7 linked regions of the Homo sapiens genome follow. The protein of the gene in region 7 interacts with the protein of the main gene of each other region in a biochemical or structural test. Each region holds a gene or a part of one and is shown on either strand. Other genes may lie near its edges.

Evidence for each region.
Region 1: the proteins of ATXN3 (region 7) and NEDD8 form a complex in vitro, tested with the Homo sapiens proteins (one study listed by BioGRID).
Region 2: the proteins of ATXN3 (region 7) and RAD23A form a complex in vitro, tested with the Homo sapiens proteins (2 studies listed by BioGRID).
Region 3: the proteins of ATXN3 (region 7) and YAP1 form a complex in vitro, tested with the Homo sapiens proteins (one study listed by BioGRID).
Region 4: of the proteins of ATXN3 (region 7) and RFFL, one has a biochemical effect on the other in vitro, tested with the Homo sapiens proteins (one large-scale study listed by BioGRID).
Region 5: of the proteins of ATXN3 (region 7) and TRIM55, one has a biochemical effect on the other in vitro, tested with the Homo sapiens proteins (one large-scale study listed by BioGRID).
Region 6: of the proteins of ATXN3 (region 7) and UBE2W, one has a biochemical effect on the other in vitro, tested with the Homo sapiens proteins (one study listed by BioGRID).

What each region holds. Positions count from the first base shown.
Region 1 is NC_000014.9:24,216,357-24,219,362, forward strand, and holds the end of NEDD8 (ubiquitin-like protein NEDD8), read right to left. Parts: intron 2,076-3,006; coding exon 2,028-2,075; intron 1,860-2,027; coding exon 1,777-1,859; intron 868-1,776; coding exon 771-867; 3' UTR 501-770; downstream 1-500. Other genes in the region: NEDD8-MDP1 protein, read right to left, coding at 1,777-1,859, 2,028-2,075. UniProt on the Homo sapiens protein: Ubiquitin-like protein which plays an important role in cell cycle control and embryogenesis via its conjugation to a limited number of cellular proteins, such as cullins or p53/TP53.
Region 2 is NC_000019.10:12,951,502-12,954,142, forward strand, and holds the end of RAD23A (UV excision repair protein RAD23 homolog A), read left to right. Parts: intron 1-1,187; coding exon 1,188-1,352; intron 1,353-1,434; coding exon 1,435-1,548; 3' UTR 1,549-2,141; downstream 2,142-2,641. UniProt on the Homo sapiens protein: Multiubiquitin chain receptor involved in modulation of proteasomal degradation. Binds to 'Lys-48'-linked polyubiquitin chains in a length-dependent manner and with a lower affinity to 'Lys-63'-linked polyubiquitin chains.
Region 3 is NC_000011.10:102,116,947-102,120,446, reverse strand, and holds part of YAP1 (transcriptional coactivator YAP1), read right to left. Parts: intron 1-3,500. UniProt on the Homo sapiens protein: Transcriptional regulator with dual roles as a coactivator and corepressor. Critical downstream regulatory target in the Hippo signaling pathway, crucial for organ size control and tumor suppression by restricting proliferation and promoting apoptosis.
Region 4 is NC_000017.11:35,011,708-35,015,207, forward strand, and holds part of RFFL (E3 ubiquitin-protein ligase rififylin), read right to left. Parts: intron 3,057-3,500; coding exon 3,033-3,056; intron 443-3,032; coding exon 261-442; 3' UTR 1-260.
Region 5 is NC_000008.11:66,151,129-66,154,628, reverse strand, and holds part of TRIM55 (tripartite motif-containing protein 55), read right to left. Parts: intron 2,253-3,500; coding exon 2,002-2,252; intron 583-2,001; coding exon 295-582; intron 1-294. UniProt on the Homo sapiens protein: E3 ubiquitin ligase that plays an important role in regulating cardiac development and contractility, muscle growth, metabolism, and fiber-type differentiation.
Region 6 is NC_000008.11:73,805,863-73,809,362, reverse strand, and holds part of UBE2W (ubiquitin-conjugating enzyme E2 W), read left to right. Parts: intron 1-3,500. UniProt on the Homo sapiens protein: Accepts ubiquitin from the E1 complex and catalyzes its covalent attachment to other proteins.
Region 7 is NC_000014.9:92,079,083-92,082,582, forward strand, and holds part of ATXN3 (ataxin-3 reference isoform), read right to left. Parts: intron 3,385-3,500; coding exon 3,218-3,384; intron 1,980-3,217; coding exon 1,883-1,979; exon of another isoform or gene 1,871-1,882; intron 387-1,870; exon of another isoform or gene 333-386; intron 1-332. UniProt on the Homo sapiens protein: Deubiquitinating enzyme involved in protein homeostasis maintenance, transcription, cytoskeleton regulation, myogenesis and degradation of misfolded chaperone substrates.

The sequences.
Region 1 (3,006 bases), about 68 Mb from region 7:
CTTTCTGCATTATCAACCTCCTGACAGTGTAGAACCCAAAGTCCTCAGTAATATTCCAGCCATAGAGTACAGTGTCAGCCAAACCCTTGAAGGCGTTCTCCAACCAGGCCTAAATGTCCAGTACAGCCACAGTCAAGAGAGAATTCACTCTCCGAAGGTTTCACCATCCATGTCAGCACTACACTGGTAGATGTATAACAACCAGTTTGTGGGGAGGAACTGATCTGTAGTGTTTGCTAGTTTCTGTAAATAATCCTACCATGGCCAATTTCAAGCTACCAACATGAAGTCACTTAATAGAGTTGGAAAAAGGTGCCAATAATTGGCTCTCATTAGCCACTAGGAACTGGTTCCAACACACCACTAAGTAGGTTTTCCTAGAGTCTGATAATCCCCGTAAGAGCACCATTCCTTCCACTGTCCGATTCCTTCAGCCTGCTATAACTGAGTGAGCATTAGGTCCATTTTTATTTCAGTCAACTTGTGCAACAGAAGAAAGATTCCAGGAGGCCAGGAAATATTTTATTGACAACCAGGGACACAGTCATAAGAGAGGGAAGCACACAGGACTGCAAACTAACACCCAGTAGCCAGCAAGGGCCCTCTGGGCCAGGAATACTGAATCCTGGGATCCTCACAGTCTCCCACCAGTAGACATACATTACTGGGCATCCAGGGGAGGGGGCAGTGGCTATGGTGTCCCAGAGAGTGAGAGGATATATGATGCCTCATTATGAGCGACAGGGTAAAGAGGTAAAATGGAGGGTCCATCACTGCCTAAGACCACCTCCTCCTCTCAGAGCCAACACCAGGTGAAGGACTGAACCACCTAAAATCTTGTAATCAGCTGCTGTCTTCTCATCATTCCTGCAGGAAAAGGAAGCCAGAAAAAAAAGAAAAAGAAGACTTAGGAGTTTTTTGTTGTTGTTGTTGTTGTTGTTGTTGTTGTTTTTGACAGAGTCTCGCTCTGTCATCTAGGCTGGAGTACAGTGGCACGATCTCAGCTCACTGCAACTTCCACCTCCTGGGTTCAAGCAATTCTCCTGCTTCAGCCTCCTGAGTAGCTGGGATTACAAGCGCCCACCACCACGCCCAGCTAATTTTTGTATTTTTAGTAAAGATGGGGTTTCACCATGTTGGCCAGGCTGGTCTCGAACTCCTGACCTCAGGTGATCCACCCCCTTCAGCCTCCCAAAGTGCTGGGATTACAGGCGTGAGCCACTGCGCCCGGCCAGAACAGGAGTTCTTGAGTTTCCTGGATCTCTTTGGGGGTCTGTGAACTTGAATGAGAAAAAAAATCCCATCTTTATTTTTACTAACCCCCAACTGAAATTTAACATTTCTTCTAACTTTAAACATAGCCCAAAAACCACAGTAGTATTAGCAATATAGGTAACTTGTTAACAATAGCAATTAACTATTTTCTATCATGATCATTTATAGGTATCTTGAAAATATTTCAAAATTATGGTCATATTAGACCTACCATTAGATCTTATGCATTAATAAAAAAGTACATATATTACTATATCACAAATTTGTTTTAGTATTTTAATAACTATTTCAATATAATTAGTTTTCCTTTAATTCTATATATTTTGTTTTATGCCTGAAAAAATCTTATTCTGAGAAGGGGCTTAGAGGCTTCACCAGATTGCCAAAGAGTCTTAGGCACCAAAAACAAGAGGCACCCCTGATCCACCTCAGTACGTGCCCCCTCTCCTCTTCTCATCTTCACATAAGATCGCCATGCTGTCATTCTCACTCCAAACTCACATCTGCTTGCCACTGTAGATGAGCCTCTGCTGTTGTGGGGGGATTCCCTCTTTCTCCTCCACACGCTCCTTGATTCGCTCCACCTTTAGAGAGACAAGTAGTCAGGGGCTGCTGCTTAGGGGTAGGACCATGGAAACGGAAAGAACAAGGGCTATGCAGACAGCATGAGAGCAAAAGGACCAAGTTCATAAGCATATGCAAACAAATACACATGGCAAGAAGTACATGAAGAGGAGTTGGGCATGCATCACCTTGTCTGTAGGTTCAATGTCAATCTCAATCTCCTTTCCGGTCAGCGTCTGAAACAGGCAATGGTTTCATGAGTCCTTAAAGCCCAATGTACAATTTGTCTTCTAGGTAAAACATCCTATGTTGGTCTTTGGGATCTACTGCCTTCTAAAAGATGCATATTCTCAGCAGCACTGCTTTGGAGAATGAGAAGGCTTTGAACATACCTTCATTTATCAAATATTTTTAGGCTGTAAACAACTTTGATAGGGCAAGATTCTTTGAACCATCTGATCCTCTTAATTCCATGAGTCATCTTCCAACATCAGTCCCCCAAAATCAGTGAGAATATTGGCATTATTTTAGATGATACGGCAATGAAAGGATTTATTTATTTATTTTTGAGATGGAGTTTCGCTCTTGTTGACCAGGCTGGAGTGCAATGGCACAATCTCGGCTCACTGCAACTTCTGCCTCCCAGGTTCAACCAATTCTCCTGCCTCAGCCTCCCACGTAGCTGGGATTACAGGCATGCGCTACCAGGCCTGGCTAATTTTGTATTTTTAGTAGAGACAGGATTTCTCCATGTTGATCAGGCTGGTCTCAAACTCCCAACCTCAGGTGATCCACCCGCCTCAGCCTCCCAAAGTGCTGGGATTACAGGGGTAAGCCACTGCACCCAGCCTGAAAGATATCTTAAAAAAAGTCAGAAGGACCTTGTTCTAAATATCAATGCTAGAAATTAATATTCAGATAATTTGAAGAATTCTCAAGGACACCAGAAATCATCTCAGCAGTTTTTTAAAAAATGCTAGAATTGGCTGGGCATGGTGGCTCACACCTGCAATCCCAACACCTTGGGAGACTGAGGCGGGAGGATCACTTGAGCCTAGGAGTTCCAGACCAGCCTGGACAACACAGCGAAACCCTGTCTCAACCAAAACAACAACAACAACAACAACAACAACAAAAATTAGCTGAGTACAGTGGTGCATGCCTGTA
Region 2 (2,641 bases), on a different chromosome or scaffold from region 7:
AGTGGCGTGATCTCAGCTCACCGTAACCTCCGCCTCCTGGGTTCAAGAGATTCTCCTGCCTCAGCCCCCAGAGTAGCTGGGATTACAGGCATGTGCCACCACGCCCTGCTAATTTTATATTTTTAGTAGAGATGGGATTTCTCCATGTTGGTCAGGCTGCTCTCAAACTCCTGACCTCAAGTGATCTGCCTGCCTCAGCCTCCCAAAGTACTGGGATTGCAGGCATGAGGCACCGTGCCCAGCCCCATTCACTCTGTTCCTGCTTCTGTTTCTGAGACTTCCCAGATGCATCCACCCTGGGCCTTTGCACTTGCTGTTTGCTTTACCTGGAGGAAACCCTCTGCATCCGCCATACTGCAGGCCTCTCCACCAGCCCTCATCTGCAGTTCCTTCCTAGCCAGACACTTGCAGTTGTCTGGTTCATTTATTGGCTCACTCACTTATTTTTTGAGAGTCTCTTGCCCAGGCTGGAGTGCAGTGGCACAGTCTCGGCTCCCTGCAACCTCTGCCTCCTGTGTTCAAGTGATTCTCCTACCTTAGCCTTCTTGAGTAGATGGGATTACAGGCACGTGCCATCACACCCAGCTAATTTTTGTATTTTAGTAGAGACGGAGTTTCACCATATTGGCCAGGCTGGTCTCGAACTCCAGGCTGGTCTAGAATCACCTGAAGTGATTATAGGTGTGAACCACTGCAGCCAGCCTATTTATGTATTTATTTATTCAAGACAGGGTCTTGCTCTGTTGCCCAGGCTGGAGTTCAGTGGCTTACTGCAGCCTCCGCCTCCTGGGTTCAGTCTTATGCCTCAGCCTGCCAAGTAGCTGGGATTACAGGCGTCTGCCACCACACCTGGCTACTTTTTGTATTCTTAGTAGAGATGGGGGTTCACCATGTTGGCCAGGCTGGACTCGAACTCCTGACCTCAAGTGATCCACCTGCCTCTGCCTCCCAAAGTGCTGGGATTACAGGTGTGAGCCACCGTGCCCGGCTTATTTCTTGGCTCACTTAAAAGCACATCATCAGCTCTTCCAGGGTAGGGCTTGTGTCGACTGCTATGTTGTGTTTGGCCAGAACAGGCTCCTCTGGATATTTGCCTGACTGAATGAAAAAGCAAGGGCTGTGATGACCTGGGGAGAGGAGGGGACCAGGGCTGTGAATTACCTTCCCTTCCCCACCCTCTCCTGCAGCAAATCAGCCGGCACCAGGAGCAGTTCATCCAGATGCTGAACGAGCCCCCTGGGGAGCTGGCGGACATCTCAGATGTGGAGGGGGAGGTGGGCGCCATAGGAGAGGAGGCCCCGCAGATGAACTACATCCAGGTGACGCCGCAGGAGAAAGAAGCTATAGAGAGGGTAAGAGGCCTGGCTGAGGGGTGACTGCAGGTGGGCAGGACCCCTACCCTCTCCTGCTCACACTTAACCTATCTTCCCACAGTTGAAGGCCCTGGGCTTCCCAGAGAGCCTGGTCATCCAGGCCTATTTCGCGTGTGAAAAAAATGAGAACTTGGCTGCCAACTTCCTCCTGAGTCAGAACTTTGATGACGAGTGATGCCAGGAAGCCAGGCCACCGAAGCCCCCACCCTACCCTTATTCCATGAAAGTTTTATAAAAGAAAAAATATATATATATTCATGTTTATTTAAGAAATGGAAAAAAAAATCAAAAATCTTAAAAAAACAAGCAAACAGTCCAGCTTCCTGTCCTCCTAAAGTGGCCCCTGTTCCCATCTCCCGGGCCAGACAGCTGTCCCCCCGTCCTCCTCCCCAGCCCAGCCTGCTCAGAGAAGCTGGCAGGACTGGGAGGCGACAGATGGGCCCCTCTTGGCCTCTGTCCCAGCTCTCTGCAGCCAGACGGAAAGGCGGCTGCTTGCCTCTCCATCCTCCGAAAAACCCCTGAGGACCCCCCCCCATCCTCTTCTAGGATGAGGGGAAGCTGGAGCCCCAACTTTGATCCTCCATTGGAGTGGCCCAAATCTTTCCATCTAGGGCAAGTCCTGAAAGGCCCAAGGCCCCCTCCCCAGTCTGGCCTTGGCCTCCAGCCTGGAGAAGGGCTAACATCAGCTCATTGTCAAGGCCACCCCCACCCCAGAACAGAACCGTGTCTCTGATAAAGGTTTTGAAGTGAATAAAGTTTTAAAAACTAGCCCTATGGTCTGTGCCTGCTGGGGCTCCCCGCGCCCACCTGTCTGGGTCTTGGGGGGCTGGCTGGGCACAGGCAGGCATGGTGACGGGTGCCTGGAAGGGGGAGAGGAGTCTGTGAGTCCCTGCAGATTGAGGCTTCCGGTGTCTCCTCCCCCAGTGTGTCATTTCCAGGCAGTGGACCCCAGCCCAACGTTACAAGGACTGCTTCTCCCCGGCCCCCACCATCATCACCACAGTCTGTTTTGGCTATACTTCCCCCCCCACCAGCCTTGTAATTGGCTAATTACTGGAGATGAATGTTGGTAAACAGAAGCCTTCTTCTCTTCTGCCATCTGCTTCTCCATTATTTGCCCATTGTACACCCCCCTTTTCCTCCCACTGAAGCCCCAGTTAGTCAGCAGGGCCTAGAGTCCCTGTCCCCTTTTGAGTACAGCCAAGTGGGGGATTCCCCAGCTCTTAAGTATTGGGGGAGGAACCAGGGGACCCAGAGAGGCACACCTT
Region 3 (3,500 bases), on a different chromosome or scaffold from region 7:
GCCATTTGCACTATTTTATTAATTTGCAACATCATTCAAAGAAACAACAGACTATCACTTGGTTGGTGTGTTTAAAAATTATGATTCTTCTCATGCTAGGAGCAAAATGAGGATTAAATACTGACCATTTTCCTTGTCTAGAATATTAAAGGGGAGGTGGGGAGGACTGCTGTGATTTAAACCAAACTTCTTTGTTTGCATTTAGAAGGGGTCAAGCCCTACGTAAATAAAAGTGCTTCCACGGTGGCAGTACTTGTTCCCAGGAAACTTGGTGCTACAGCACTTGAGCAACCAGAACCATGAAGCAATTCTTCTTCATAGAAACGGCAATGTCCCTTTCATGGCTTGTAGTTCTGATTAATCCTAGAATCAGAAGCCCTTTTTGTAAGAAGTGCATCACCTAGTAACCACAGTTATAGAACGACACAGCTCTTTAAGACCTCCCTTTATACAATGCTACTCAGCTATTATTAAAAACTTTCAAGCCACAATTAATGGCTAAATTATGCTATTACAGAGGGTAGCATTAAGTTTGAATAATCTTAAATCTTAGCAACTGATTTTTAAAATGACTTCACTTTGATTGGTCCTAAGCTTAAATTTCTATATATATTTTGGCAATAAAACAGTTTAGAGTTTACCTCCCCTCAAAGCCTTAAGGTACAAGGCAATGCAGAGTCATGATACCCTGAGTATTTTAAGCTGTGAATTCACATTATTTTTCTAACTACAAAGTAAAATATTTCTCTACATAACTAAAGAGGACTTATTTTAGGGTTGTAAAAACCTGGGTTTTTTTTTTTTCCAAGTTTCAACTATTTAAATGCTATCTAGATGTTTGGGTTTTTTTTTAATGGCTAAGATAAAGCTTTAGGAAAGGGTATTTTTTTTTAAATGTGACTTTAAAAAGAAAATTAGCCTACCACCTTGCAGTCAATTGAGTCTGCTACATTTAAACTTCCAGAGATAGTTCTAGAATTCTTTCTAGAACTAAGAATCATAATTTTTAAACACACCAAGTGACAGTCTGTTCTTTGAATGATGCTGCAAATTAATTAAATAATGCAAAGAAGTTCTAGTGAACTTCTTTCTTAGTTCACACTAAAAAAATTCCATTATTTTTCCCAGGGAATATGTTAATCTCTATGTTCTATTTACTCTGTCACATCTACTATCTTCCAACTGTTTTTCTTCTGCCACTGGTGAATACAGTTTCTCCAGGGTTCTCTCCCTAAATCACTGTGGCACTGTGTGCCATTCTTCCCTGGGATGCCCACCCACTGAGCAGAAGTAAGCTCTCCCCCACCCCCCAGAGCTAAGGGCGTACTTTCATCTTCTCTCTCCACTCAGCCTCAATAGCAAGACAAACAAGCAGAGACTGGCCTTCCCTCAAATAGGGAAATACTTCGTGATTGCAATTTGAACTGGTTTTTTGTTTGTGTATACATGTGCACGTGTGCAACTTAACATTTAATGGCAAAATTACAAGCTTTTCAGTTTTAAAGGGAAACTCTGGGTTATACTTGATACAGAAAGAAACAGTATAGCCTTATTCTTCATGAAACTTCCTTTTAAAGAGGCATAATCTTTATTATGAAGATACACTGTATATGTTCTGTATACAATGTATAAATACCAGGTACACTGTATATGATAACAACATACACTGTATATGTTCATAGTCTTTTTTTTTTTTGAGATAGAGTCTGGCTCTGTCGCCCAGGCTGGTGTGGAGTGGTGCAATCTCAACTCACTGCAGCCTCCACCTGCCAGGTTCAAGCAATTCTCCTGCCTCAGTCTCCTGATTAGCTGGGACAATAGGTGTGCGCCAACACACCCGGCTAATTTTTGTATTTTTGTAGAGATGGGGCAGGAGAATCACGCGAACCCAGGAGGCAGAGGTTGCAGTGAGTTGAGATCGTGCCACTGCACTCCAGCCTGGTCAACAGAGCAAGACTCTGTCTCAAAAAAAAAAAAAAAAGGAAAGAAAGAAAAAAGAATCAGCCTATGTATAGCGATCAATCACATCTACAAGGCAAATTAATATAGGAATATGGGTAGTTTTATGCCATGCAATGTCAAAAATCTCTGAAAAACATATCCTTTTTAAATTGTATACCAAGCTACTCAATATAACTTAATCAAATCACAGCCACAAAAAACCTTGAATCTTCGCAGACTAAAAACATTGTGGCCAGTTATTCAGAAAATGATAAACAATGGAAATGAAACAAAACTGTGCTTTAAAAATTATTAGAACATTATTAAAACAATGCAAATGTACAAACTTTTAAAATCACTGATCCAGATTCCTTAAATCAAATTATAAGGTCCTACATGGTACATTATATATAAGAACACATATCTTTGAACATGGTAATAGTTATAAGGCATCAGAGTCAATAAAATAAACTTGCAAGTAAAACACTCCTTGAAACCAGAGATATTATAGAATACTGAGTCAGGAAGTTATTCAGCAGCTTATAAAGAAATAGGAAGTTGTTGACCAACTACTTGAAGAACTATTTCCTGTAGGAAAACCGTAAGACAGCTGAAGAAGGTAATAACTCTCAGAGTCATAAAGAGAATGAATTCTTTTAAAATGAAAGCTCAATACGATGGTAAAGAAAATAGTTTTGAATAGTAAATGTAGTAGAACAAATATTATATGGCTAAGCCTTGTTTACATACTTCACATTCATCCCAGAGCTTGAAAACAAGCCACTGATAAATGTAACTAGCACCATACTTCCACCGTATCACTTGCCAAAGTAAGGTATGAGTCTCCTCCACAAGATCTCACTGACCTAAGGAGGGCTTTAAAACAACGAATGATTGCCTGCTTATAATCTTTCAGTAATCATGCTGCCTGGAAACTAGATGATAGGCCAACTAACTTCAAAAACTCAATCATCTATGGTCACAAGGCCAACAACTGGGTTGTTTCTTAACATTTCTAAGTTTTTTCTCAAATTACATCGTCTTGCCTGTCTGGACCATTTATAGTCAGGTTCTTCATGCCAAATATAAATCTCAATAAGTTATAGACTTTGTAACTTAAAAGTCAGTTCCAACAAATATCTAAAAAGATGCATTAAAATAAAATGTTTCATTGCGGAAACAAGTGTAAGGCAACTAATTTAAATCTTCATTCTACATCTGATGACAACAACACTCCTCTTTAGATACAAGAGGAAAGTATATAAATATTGATTACAAAGACAGCCCTATTTTAAAACATCAAAACTAGGATAAAAATGAACTTTGACAACAGAAACTTGGCACCAAAAGCTTAGTTTATCATCATCTTTGACTAATGGTTAGGATATTAATCTCATTTGTCTGTTCAGTACACAAAAAGAAGTTGTAACAACTATACGGTCCATAACATCATGGAAGTAGCTAACTGGAGAAGGTGAAATAATCTTATTTCATAACTTTTCTCCAAATTGCATAATGTTCATAAAGCAGATACTCTTTAAAATACAAAATTTTATAAG
Region 4 (3,500 bases), on a different chromosome or scaffold from region 7:
CATCATCACTCCAAGATCACTGAACCAAGAACATACCCATGTGATTTATACAAGTTCCCACTGGCCTTGGGCTTTGCCAGCCAAGAGGTACACCCCTGGGAAGACAGGCATGCTCAGGGGTGACATGGCATCTTGCTTGACCTGGTTTTGGGAACCCTGCAATATTTCTACTAGCTTGCTCCTCTGCAAGCTGGCCAACCCTGAGCCCAGACACCCCAGGCTATTTCCCTGTAAGGCACTGAAGAAACCGATGCAAGCTCTCAGGACCGGAAGACATGCACAGCTCGGATTACATACTGCCGGCAGATGGGACATTCATTCATGCGCTTGCCACACTTGGTACAGGTTACCATGTGGCCACACTCCAGAAGAACACAGTCAATGGGTGAGTCCATGCAGATCTTACACAGGTTCTCCTCCAAGCCTGATGGTACTGCTCCCCCTGTACAAACACACAGGGCAGAAAAAAAGGGGCAGAGGAGTGAGGAGAATGTCTTAAGTGTATAGGGGTGACTGGGGGAGGGAGGTGGGAGATAACAGGTACATTGTAAACAAAGTCTCAGTGCACATGCTTCCCTCAAATAGAGCTCCTCCGAGGAAACATTTCCTCAATAACCAACTCTGGTTACTTGTTTAATCCACACTTCATCCCCTCCAACAGGTAAAGATTTGAAAAGTACACAGCACTTGTGGATCAGACACATCCCAGAACATGAGAACTAAGGCAAAGTTCTCAAAGCTTAAAAGAAATAATTTTCAGACTGTTGGGGCTGTAATATAGTGAGTGTGTGAGTGGCACGTAGGGACTCATTATCCCCTGAGGCAGAACAGGCTAAAAAGATAAAACTGGTTCAGAAAAGTTTAGATAGAAATGGAACTGTGATGAATGGTTCATTAAGGATCACAAGGCTTTATCTATAAACATATCCTCCATTTAATAAAGTCAGGGATCATGGGGGACCCCTCTGCTATCTCACAAACTACTCCCAGGTTTCCTGAGGAAACTTCCTGGTGGAGAAACTTGGCAGAGATTACTGCTCCCTCTTTCTACCCCCACAAAACTTTTTTATACCCCCATGACTGCTTATCACATTGGATTAAAATTTTGAGTTTGCCTACTTACTCCCAGAGTAGACTATGAGCTCTTTAATTCAACATATTCAATCAATTTTTACAATTATATGCTTAGCATTTATTCCATGCTCCAAGGTTAGATATTCATCTTTGAAGCCCCCAATGCCAGTTATATGGTAGGTACTCTAAATGTCTGATGAATGAACATCTTCCCAAGGGAATGACAACATCCCACATTTACTGAATGCTTACCGTGTGCCAGGCAGGGTCCTGAAAGCTTTGCATGTGTTAACTCACTGAAGCCTCACAAAAACTATAAAGTAGGACCTCTTGTTATTTTCATTTTATAGATGAGGCCAACTGGGGCAAAAAAGTTAAGTGGCTTGCCCAAGGGCACAAAGCTGCTAAGTCGAGGAGCCAGGATTCAAACCCAGGCAGGCTGGCCCCACAGCTCCTGCTCTAGAATGGCCTTCTGCCTAACTGCCCTAAGAGTAGAAACTATCCAGACAGTATCAACTGCTGAGTGCACAGGGTTCTCAATAAATGCTAACTGGCTTGTGTCACTAGCAGAATATAGTGGGCATGACCAGTATCCTAGTAGAGCTGACCCAAACAGAAAAAATAATGTTCAAAAGCCCAGCCATCTCCAATATGTCTTAAATTGTAGCCTGAAGTAGGTACCCATAAAAAGGAACTGATCTCACAGAAGTCACCTCTACCATCTGGGGGTTGGCCAACCCATAGAGGAATTCTCCCTTATTGCATCTATACTTTCTCTTTTCTGGACTATTAAAAAGTCAAGAAATACTTCCCCCTAGGAGGTAGGCTGGGTGTGAAAGGGAGTGAAACCCATTTGCCTCTTTTGAGGTGCTGTTGGTCCTAACAGAGGTTTGGAGACTATACAAATACCTAAGATGAATGGGAATAATTTATAATTTTCAGTTACTCATTCTCTCAGAAGTAACAACAAACACATTAACTCAGTTGTCAGCATTCTCCCAGGGAATCAGAAAAAGAAAGGAAGCACCAAGTAGATCAGCCTGATCTTGGTACCGGTGATGCTGGGGGGTTGGAGGGTGGAGGTGGGTCTAGAACTCCAAATGGTTTTGGGGAATTGAGAAAAGCTCAACTGTTTTTTATGTCTGATTAGAAGTAATCAGACATAAAATTGCCCATTCTGAGCAAAAGGCCATTTTACTAAATAAATTTGGGAAATCTTCTGAAATAAGTTTTAAAATGCTGCAGGCTAGTCCAACACTACTCTTAGAACGTTCTCTCTTGGAAGGGAGTTCACAACCATATACCCTTGAGGCTTTTGAAAACACATAGCATATTTTAGAATGTCCCCACAGATGGTCAGGAGTTCTGCAGTGTGTTCTGGGAGTACCTGAGGGCCCAGTGGTGGTCTTTAAGTGAGTGGCAGCTGAGCTGAGATATATAGCTTGTGCCCAGAGAGTAGCACATGTGTTAGCTCCAGAGTAGCTCTAACCATTACCAGCCCTGTACAAACAGGGCTGTCTCAGGTCACCACCCTTTCTTTTTGGTTAGTACCAGAAGCTGCTAAACACCCTGATTCCCCAGAAGGTGTACACAGAGACCCTCCCTACCCAGACCAGAACTGAAAACACCAAGATTTTAAAAAATGAGCTGAGTGTGATACATGCCACCCCTCCTCTGTTTCAGTGTTTTACAAATGTTGGCTTATGAGCTCAGGTAGCCCAGGGACATGCACATCAGTCAGTCCGCCCCTACGTATGCTCCACTCTGCTTCCTGCACAGCGAGCAGAGAGAATTTCTAAAGATGGTGAGAGGCCCCCTGGGTCTCAGTGAGTTTCCCACACACCCTCTCTCTGGGGGCTCAAATGCTCAGAATTCTTAGATTACTAAAGGGATTGGGGTTGAAGGAGGGGAAGGACAAAAGGGCCTAAGCCCATTCCCAAACAGAAACAACTACATACCGTTTTGGTCTTCGGCACCACTGACTGAAAAGGAAAGAGAAGGATGTCTGAATAGGTAAGGCATGATGGTACAAATACAGTCTCTTACTGCCCTGACATCATTTCTGAACTCTTACCACTCCCTGCTGGGAACCAGGCTTGCCAAGAGCCTAGATGGACATCTGCCCTCTACTCGCTCTACATGCTCAGAACTCACACAAAGCTCCTACTCGTGCATCTGGTCTACTTTTATTTTTTATTTTTTTGAGATGGAGCCTCACTCTCTTGCCCAGGCTGGAGTGCAGTGGCATGATCTTGGCTCACTGCAACCTCTTTCTCATGGGTTCAAGCGATTCTCCTGCCTCGGCCTCCTGAGTACCTGGGGACTACAGGCACATGCCACCACTCCCGGCTAATTTTTTGTTTTTGGTGGAGATGGTGTTTCACCATGTTGCCTATGCTGGTCTTGAACTCCTGATCTCAAGTGAT
Region 5 (3,500 bases), on a different chromosome or scaffold from region 7:
GCAGCGCTCAGTAGCATGCCTAAGGGCCAGGCTCACTTGCACCCCTCCCCTGGGAAGCCAGGTGTGAGGTCACCATGCACCAGGAGAGTGAACTCAAATTTGTTTTGTTTTATGTTTTCTTTTATATAGAGCTCAAAACAAGCCAACATTGGGGGATGAATTGTTTCTGTACTTTTCCCCTGGCTGAGGTTTCTCTCTGCCCCTTTGAAAACCCTTTTTCTTCTTGCTGTGGCCTGTTCCAGTGGGACCCTAGGGGGCGCGGGAAAGCATAGACACAAGTGCATCATCACTAACCTGAGAAGTAGCTGCAGGTGCACTAGTTTCCTTACCACTCACAGCTGCCCTCTCACTCGCTGCGGCTGCTGCCACTTCTGCCTTCCGTACATTCGAATCCTCAGAACCTGGAGGCCCTATTTGCCCCAGACCTTCGCTCCCTGGGGTGCAAGGTGGGTTGGTGGTGGCTTTCCGGGTTTGGCCTTTATACCAACTAGGGTAAAACAAGGGATCCGCAGTTTCTGCTGCTGCAGGGACTGGAGTTTCAGACTCTGTGGTCTGCTCAGAGCCAGTGGGTACAACCTCCCCCTTAATCAGGACAGATAAATTCAAAAGTAAAGAAAAAAAAAAAGAAGAAGAAGAAGAAAAAGCAGTTGATTTTAGTTCCCTTTGGGTTTGAACACTGTGCGCTCCCTGCATGCAGTGCCTTGGTGGCCGTTTTAGTTCATCCCACCCTCCAGAAGCGCTAAGGGCAGAATGGTGACTACAGTGCCCCTCTGTCCAGCATCTGGATGGGTGCCCTCTTCTTTTCTGAGCTTGTCTTTCACTCACTGGGAGCCCAGGCAGGCAGAGAGCAGAAACCTCAGTGAATGTTGGTTATAAAATATCAGATATGGGAAAAGGGTCAAACTATTGACTAGAATAATTTGTTGGCTTTATACGTGAGTCCCAAAAACCTCATTATAAAAAACAAAAATTAATCTTATTGATCAAATCCAACCCTCACTTAGTTACTATACCTCTTTCAATTTTAATACAACTGAAATGCTCAGAATTTAAAAATTCTAGACTATAAATGGCATTTTAGCCTGGTTTCCTGTGGAGACAGAGCATAGAAATACAGTTCCATCTCTGAGATCCCCCTCTGGAGTTTTGTTTCAATCCACTTCAAAAGCAGTTGCAGAAGCAGGACTCCTCTCTGATGAGTCTGCACTGCCTGCAAACTCAAAAGGTTGGGATCCTGTCTGCTGAAGTATCATGGAGTCTGCACAAAGGCTTGAAAACTGGACGGTGACGTATTAGAAACATGAGGTCAACCAATTAGGTGCAGCATCTGGGGTGAGCTTATTTCTTAAGATATGTTTTAAACAATTCTGTCAACACACAATCTCATCAAATGACAAATCCATAGAAAACCAGGCTTCATTGTTTGCTCACTGAAGGAAAAATACATAAGTTGTATTTCAGGGTAAGCAACAGGAACATAAACTAGTGTAGTTTCTCTATTTACCCCCTCAATTATCTACAGAAAATTCAAAGTTCTGAAAGTATAATCACTTTTATTTCTTACTCTGTATGCTATTTATTTCTCATCCTATACCCTACATATACATTCACTAAGTAACAAAGAGCAGACCCAGTCCCCATGATATCAGCTCTCTATGAATTAACATGACACACAGACATGGACACACACACACACACACACACACACACACACACACACACACAATTTCCAGACAAAGATTGCCTTTGATTTGAGGGCATTACTGGTGGGAAAGTTGTATTAAATTTTGTTAACTAACAATAACAACAAAGAACCTGTTGAATCACCTAGAGGACTTTTCTCCCCGACATGAGGACTGTCCTGAAATCTTTCGTCTACCATATACGAATGTCTGGCATATAGTTATCTTTTTCTTAAGGCAGAATAGGGTAAATTGTTTAGGCTATTCCATAAGGAGACACGCCCATGTGCCCTGTAGAAAGAGACTCAGGAGGGGTTACCTGTGTCACAGGGGCATCCGCAGCAGGTGGCAGGGCTGGAGGTGGCTCTGGAGAGGAAACTGGAAGTGCCCCAGGGGCAGCCTGCAGCTCCACCTGAGAGAGCTCTGAAGCTTTTTCTGGGTTTTCATCTTCTCCTGGAAACTCTGTTTGAACATTTTCTACCTCTTCCACTTCTACTGCTTCTCCTCCCACTTCTCCTTCTCCTTCTTTTTCTCCTTCTCCGCCTTCTTCTTCTTCTTCATCTTCATCTTCTGGTAAGGTAAGGTATCTTGTAAATTGTTATAACTATCTCTGCAGCCATGGACACAGTTAATGGCCAGTGCTTATAGCCCTAGTTAAGGTCAAGGCTGGGGAGTTTTTCTCTGACAGACACTTGACAATGGTCCAAGTGTGCCGTGCCAGGGCTTTGTGCTTCTAGTGGAATGTGGACTGGACAAATGTGAAGGAACCATCCCTATCCTCCTTGTTCTCCTCCCCAGTACAAAGTCTTCACCTCTGCTGTGCATAATGCCCTTCACCTTCCAGAGCCCGTCCACATTTTTATTACAGTCTGCCACATCTGCAAGCTCCTGGAGGCCTGGGATTGTCACTTATTTATCTCTGTCAGATTAAATGGAAGTGCAACTGTCTTCCCTGTCTCAGAAAACATACAAAGCCCTTTTGTCATTTTAGCTTTCTACCTCTGTTGTTCAGTGAATACTGACTTTTGCCATAATTAATGTCACGACTCTTTTATTTATTTATTTATTTATTTATTTATTTATTTATTTATTTATTATTTTTTGAGACAGAGTCTCACTCTGTCACCCAGGCTGGAGTGCAGTGGTGCAATCTCAGCTCACTGGAACCTCCGCTTCCTGGGTTCAAGTGATTCTCCTGCCTCTGCCTCTGGAGTAGCTGGGATTACAGGCGTACGCCACCACGCCCGGCTAATTTTTTTGTATTTTTAGTAGAGATGGGGTTTCACCATGTTGGCCAGGCTGGTCTCAAACTCCTGGCCTTAAGTGATCCACCCGCCTTGGCCTCCCAAAGTGCTGGAATGCCGTGACTCTTTTCCTGACCCACTGATCTTAATATTCCCTCAGGCGACATTAAGGACAGGCAATATTAAGCGATTTTTTTAAAAAGATACATCCTAAAGATTTGCCTTTAAAATTTTGTCTGTGGATGTTGGTGCAGCCTCATAGCATTACTAGTGGTCTAGTGGTCTAGCTGAGGGGTGTGATCATCTAGGTGGGCTAGCATGAGTCAAAGTGATCAAAGTTTTGGTCAGCTCCAAGATTGTTTTTCACTTTTCAATTATTTAATCAGGATAAAATTTCAGAAATGGGACTTCTGGGCCAAAAGGTAGGAATGTGGTTATAGCTCAGGGAGTATAACTAGTCACACAGACCCAGGTTTATGTTCAGGTTGTGACTTATTCTATGAGTTGTTACTATTCTTGTCCTCTAAATTTTGATTAAGTTGATGTGCTGCAATATCTAACCCACATGCCTCCT
Region 6 (3,500 bases), on a different chromosome or scaffold from region 7:
TTTACAGTTTTCTTTCCTTTTCTCCAAATTGAACTGATTGTCATTTTTATTAAATTAGTATTTGGAGAACTTTTAAGATAATAGTTCATTTTTTAATGATAGGTTATTTAGAATCTGAAGCACTCTAAGCCACAGCATGTGAAATAATAGGTTAAATTGGTTTTGTTTTGTTTTTTTACTCATTTGTTGCTTATTGCTGTTATATTTTCTCCTCTCACCCACCCCCAACACACACACACGTTTTAAACTTTTATGTGTAGGGCAAAGCAGTTTGTGGGTACAAGGCCTTCTATGTTCCTGTTACGCTTAAAGACTATAGAAAGGTGAGACGGTAACAACAGTATTTAATAAGAAAGTTATTAAGAGATTAATGTCAGCGATATCTGTACATAGTCTTGCATGTGCCTCATGATTATTAGATTTTATTTACATTTAAATATAATGATTTATTATTAAAAACTAGAGAATGACTATATTCTGTGTACTTCCTTCATCTTCCTCTAACCCTCACCATTCCCCTTACATTCTAGTTGTCTGCTACTAGTGTTTCTTGTACACTTAGTATAAGACTAATCATTCCATTTAAAGCACTAATAAACTATGTTTTTACTGTAATAGTTGTATAATATTTAACCAAGATGATAATACAGAAATCAAGATTTCCATGAAATACGATAAAATTCAAAAAACATTTACTAGGTACCTAGTATGTGCTACTTTTACTGTGCTAAGTGATAAGTTACAAAGATGAAGAGGAAATTTGCCTTGGCATTGAGACGATCTGGCATTAGAGAGATCTAAGCTCCAAAGAAACCTTAAAAAGTGTTTTAGGCCAGGTGCAGTGGCTCACGCCTGTAATCCTACTACTTTGGGAGGCCGAGAAGGGTGGAGCACTTGAGGCCAGGAGTTCAAGAGCAGCCTAGGCAAAATGGCTAAACCCTGTTTACTAAAAATAGAAAAATTAGCTGGGCGTGGTGGCGCATGCCTGTAGTCCCAGCTACTTGGGAGGTTGATGCACAAGACTTGCTTAAACCCAGAGGCTGAAGTTGCAGTAAGCTGATATCACGCCACTGCACTCCAACCTGGGTAATAGAGCAAGACTCTGTCTCAAAAAAGAAAAAAGAAAAGTATTTTAAATACCCATCTACACGTTTTATTATTATTAAAACGGGTAAATTTTATTCCGTAGTGGACATGGTTCTATGGGCTTTACTTTGTTAATTCTACTACTATTAAATATTTTACTTTAGGTGTTTGGGACTTTAGTCATAATTCTTCTATTCCAATTTCCTTTTACACAGTCAGGAGTGGTTCCATAAACTGAAGGTATTTAAATCCAGTATGTCATTAGATTGTAGTGGATTAAAGATAATTTCTGATATTGAGATCACAGGACTTTCAGTAAATTCCACTTTATTTGCATGCCTTTGTAATATATTTACATTGTTCAAACTTTTCAGTTTGTATCCCATTCCTAAAACAATTTCGTAAGACTTCTTTTGTATAGTTTCTTTTCCAAGAACTGTATCTCCCTGATCATTTGTCAGGGAGATAAATGATTTAAGCAAATAGAATTGAGTATTTCTTTTTTCTAAATATGTATTTTTTGAAGACTTTTCTGATGATTCTTGGGTTCTAATCAACATATACATAAAATGAGTTTGTGAAAGTATCTGCTCTAGTAGTACCAATTCCATATGAACATAGATTTAACTTTGTAGAATCATCCCTTCCTTGAAGTAGTCAGGCATCTAATTTCATAATATTCATTTTTTAGGAATTTTCTCAAATTGTGTCCACAGATTGACTTGGAATACCTAAATGTCTTGACTGTCTTATGCTCTAATGTTTCTTTTTGTTAAATGAAATTACTAATATTAACACATAAGAGCATTGTGAGGCTCAACTAGACTGATAGTTACATATATGAGTTTTAGAAGTGCCAAATGGACTAACTGTTTTCCTTCCTGCTATCACAGAGTCCTACTCACGATTGCTTTCTGGTTAGACTTTCCTTAAATGATGTCATACCAAATTCACTTATTTTCATTAGCCTCAGGTAGAGGAGAGGATTCCCTTAATCTCTCATTTTCATTAGCTTAGCTAAGCAGATTTAAGTCTGAAAATAAATCCTGCATATACACTATACAATATTTAATGATAGGAAAATAATCAAGTTATTGGAATGATTCCGAAAGGCATAAAGGAGACTAAAGGATAAGGATATCTATCATAGTATCTATAAACTTTAATATAGCTTTAATATAAATTTGATGTTTCCAAGTCTTTGTAGAGGGTAACATTTTCTTTTGTCTAGGCAGTATGCAACAAATTTCAGGAAAAGTCTCTTCCATAATATATCTTCAGTGTTGTTGGCATCACTTTATCTGCGGTAGCTCCCTTGCGGAGCTGCCATATATTTCTCATATATTGTTCTAGTCAGGGCATATGTTCAGCAGAAAGGCCAATTATAGTAGAAATGCCAATATATATTTTTCCCATTTTTTCTCTTAAATATTGTTTAGAAACTGAATCTTCTGGTCTATCTTTGATGGTATTCTATTACAGTAAAAACAGTTCTTTGTGGAGGTTTGTACATTGCTATACTTCTCCCAACAAATCTAGTTTAGTAGACTTTTCTGTTTTGTTTTGAGACGAAGTCTGGTTCTGTCACGCAGGCTGGAGTGCAGTGGCGCAATCTCGGCTCATTGCAAGCTCCGCCTCCCAGTCTCACGCCATTCTCCTGCCTCAGCCTCCTGAGTTAGCTGGGACTACAGGCGCCCGCCAACACGCCCGGCTAATTTTTTTTTTTTTTTTTTTTGTATTTTTAGCAGACAGGGTTTCACCGTGTTAGCCAGGATGGTCTCGATCTCCTGGCCTCGTGATCCACCCGCCTCGGCCTCCCAAAGTGCTGGGATTACAGGCGTGAGCCACCGCGCCTGGCCCTTTGTTTTATTATTTATTTATTTTTTGAGATGGAGTCTCACTCTGTCACCCAAGCTGGAGTGCAGTGGCACCATCTCGGCTCACTGCAACCTCCACCTTCTGGGTTCAAGCAATTCTCCTGCTTCAGCCTTCCAAGTACCTGAGATTACAGATGCCCACCACTGCGCCCGGCTATGTTTAAATTATTATGTGAATTTGACTTTTCTCATCAGTCCTTTTTCATTCCCTTTATAATTTATTTAATTTTTTGTTTGTTTGTTTTGAGACGAGAGTCTCGCTCTGTTGTCAGGCTGGAGTGCAATGTCACAATCTTGGCTCACTGCAACCTCTGCCTCCCGGGTTCAATCAATTCTCCTGCCTCAGCCTCCCAAGTAGCTGGGATTACAGGCACGCACCACCATGCCCAGCTAATTTTTTTGTATTTTTAGTAGAGACTGGGTTTCACCATGTTGGCCAGGCTAGAACCTAACACAGACCACACTCAAACACGCTTATTATTCCTTTTTTAAATTTAGGTGTTAAGCATACACATTTCCTGGAATACATTTATAGTT
Region 7 (3,500 bases):
GGCTGAAGTGGGAGAATCGCTTGAACTCAGGAGGCAGAGGTTGCAGTGAGCAGAAATTGTGCCATTGCACTCCAGCCTGGGCAACAGAGCAAGACTCCATCTCAAAAAAAAAAAAAAAAAAAAGCAAGATTGGCCGTGTGCTAGTATTTGTTGAATCTGGGTCATAAACAGGAGTATGCTAGTTTTTCTACTTTTGTATAAATTTGGAGTTTATTATAATAAAAAAGTTAATTTTGAAACTTAAAAGTAAAAAGCACTAATAAGCACTACTTTGAAATTTAACATATAATTAGCCATTAATCTATACTGAATAAAGACTAGAAATATCTCACATTAAGAGGATGTCAGCTGATCAGAATTTTCCTTCATCTACTTCTGAGTTGTGACTTAAAAACAAAACAGAAAAAAAGGTAAATATTTTCTTCATTATACCATCAAATGTAAAATGAGCCAATATTTATAGGTGCTGCTAATATACTGTCAATTATGACTGTAAGATGCTTCTCAATTTCAGAGACATTGAAATGTGAAACTATGTGCATCTCAGAATGGATGAAATACAGCAAATAGTAAGTCAGATTGAGCTATGACTCTGTTTTCTGACCTAGGATCAGTGGGTCTGATTATTTATCTTGTAATCTTTAACATGAAGTTTTCTTTCTCTTTTTTTTTGAGACGAAGTCTCGCTCTTGTCCCCCAGGCTGGAGTGCAATGGCGTTATCTCAGCTCACTGCAACTTCTGCCTCCCAGATTCAAGCGATTCTCCTGTCTGAGCCTCCCAAGTAGCTGGGATTACAGGCACCCACCACCATGCCCGGCTAATTTTTGTATTTTTAGTAGAGATGAGGTTTCACCATGTTGGTCAGGCTGGTCTTGAATTCCTGACCTCAGGTGATCCACCTGCCTTGGCCTCCTAAAATGGTGGGATTACAGACGTAAGCCACCGTGCCCAGCCTTTTATTTTTCTTTAAAAAAAAAAAGTGGGGGACAAAAGTCTGAATGATAGTTACTTGAAAAGAATGTATTTTCATATGGTGGAATTCCTATTTAGCAAGCACTTACAAGGCTGGGCACAAGGTAAGGTTTTAGGAGTTGATCCAGATTTATGGTTTGCATCCATTCCCCTGATGCTAACAGGCTTACAGGACTGCCTGAAGCGGCCATGAGCAGCTAAATGAACTACCACGTCTATTTGGGAATGCGCTCCCATACCTCCAAAGCTGTTTTTCGTACTGATTGGTAGAGGAATTTTGCAGGGTTAATCAGGTAAGCAAGAAGTACATCCAAAGGATCAATTGGCATTCTTCTTGTCTTGTCCTAATTTCATTTTTCTTTTAATAAATGAAATTTTATAAGGTTTCCTTCACTCAGTTTAAAAAATTTATCCAGTATTGGGGCAAGGTTTTTTTGTTTCATGTTATTTGCCGTAAATTTTTATTTTTATTTATATATATATACATATATTTTTGGAGACGGAGTCTCACTCTGTCACCCAGTCTGGAGGGCAGTGGTGCGATCTCGGCTCACTGCAACCTCCACGTCCCGGGTTCAAGCAATTCTCCTGGCTCAGCCTCCCAAGCAGCTGGGACTACAGGCGCACGCTTCCATGCCCAGCTGATTCTTTTGTATTTTTAGTAGAGATGGGGTTTCACTGTGTTGCCCAGGCTGGTCTCGAACTCCTGACCTCAGGCAATCTGCCCGCCTTGGCCTCCCAAACTGCTAGCATCACAGGCGTAAGCCACCGTGCCCGTCCTATTTGCTGTAAATTTTTAAAAAATACATTCAAATATTCACAGGATTCAGGCAGTAACCATTTACAAATAGACAAAATAGCCAAAGCAAATATTAAACATGCTACTTTAACTTGTACCAACTACTTTACTTTTCAAAGTAGGCTTCTCGTCTCTTCCGAAGCTCTTCTGAAGTAAGATTTGTACCTGATGTCTGTGTCATATCTTGAGATATGTTTCTGGAACTACCTGAAAACAAAACACAACACAACAAAAACCAATCACTGTATTTACCAATTCAAGCAACAATATGTTTGTTTATACTCATTTGAGTAAGCCTTTAAAACGTTTTCTCTTTAAGAATATTCTACTCTTCTGGCTGGGCGTGGTGGCTCACACATGTAATCCCAGCACTTTGGGAGGCCAAGGCAGGTGGATCACCTGAGGTCAGGAGTTCAAGACCAGCCTGGCCAAAAGGGCAAAACCCTATCTCTACTAAAAGTACAAAAAATTAGCTGGGCGTGGTGGTAGGCGCCTGTAGTCCCAGCTACTCAGGAGGCTGAGGCAGGAGAATCGCTTGAACCTCGGAGGCAGGGGTTGCAGTGAGCCAAGATCACTGCACTCCAGGCTGGGCGACAGTGAGACTCTGACTCAAAAAAAAAAAAAAAAAAAAAGAAAGAAAAAAAAAAAAGAAAGAAATCTAAAGCTGATTTCTGTCCCTGCTAATCCAGCAGGACTCTATTAATCAAAAATGGGATTGCACACCATATGGAGTACTCAGAGGCATGCATAGAGGCAAGAAAAGTTCAGGATAAAAATAATCTTCCCATTAATGAAATTTCAATTTTATTTAGATATCTAAGGAAATCAACTGATAAATAATTTCATTAGAAAGTAGAAGCAAATACATATGAGTTAGAAAAAAATAAAACAAAAAACCCACTTCAAACTTTTAATTAAGCTACTTTGAGCTATGTCTTAACATTTTTCTTTGCCTAGATTGTCTAGGGGATATGTTTTCGCTTTTCTCTATTGATAGTTTATATCACTAAAAAACTGGGCCCACCAAAGTGGGCTTACGGTTTAAGTTGCATAGCCAATAAATGTTGGGTTTTTGTAAAATCAGTTTATATTCCCTGTCCAGGCCCTTCCATAGTGTCTAATGGCACATATTTATGTAACAGCTGATTTGGATAAGGGTCAACTGATACCCACAAAGATTAAAACCACAATTTACTATTGTGTTAGTACAGTGTTGAAACCAAATAAAATAACCAGGAGTAAAAATATAACTACTCCTAATAAAATATAGGTTGTAAAAAGTGATTTCCATTATAAGAAATCTAAAGGGAAAGCCCACTATATAGCTATTGCTTCTGCAGTAATTGTCAAAACACCTCTAAGAGTACATTAACTTCCATGAAATCTAAGAATAATTGGAATCAATTCTTCAGCAATGAATACAACACACATCAGAATGTCTTTACCTTGCATACTTAGCTGAATAGCCCTGCGGAGATCTGCTTCCTCATCTTCCATGTCAATTTCTTGGCGACTTAGTGCCAGAGCCCTCTGCAAATCCTCCTCATCTTCGTCTAACATTCCTGAGCCATCATTTGCTTCTAACACTCGTTCCAGGTCTGTTTTATGGACTCTAAAGAACAAAAGCACTGGTAATAACTGCAACCAATCTTCTATTTTAGACATAACATAAAGGCATTTGTAATGTAAAGGCTTTAAGTAAGTCAAAACTTAAAATGTTTTCTGGCA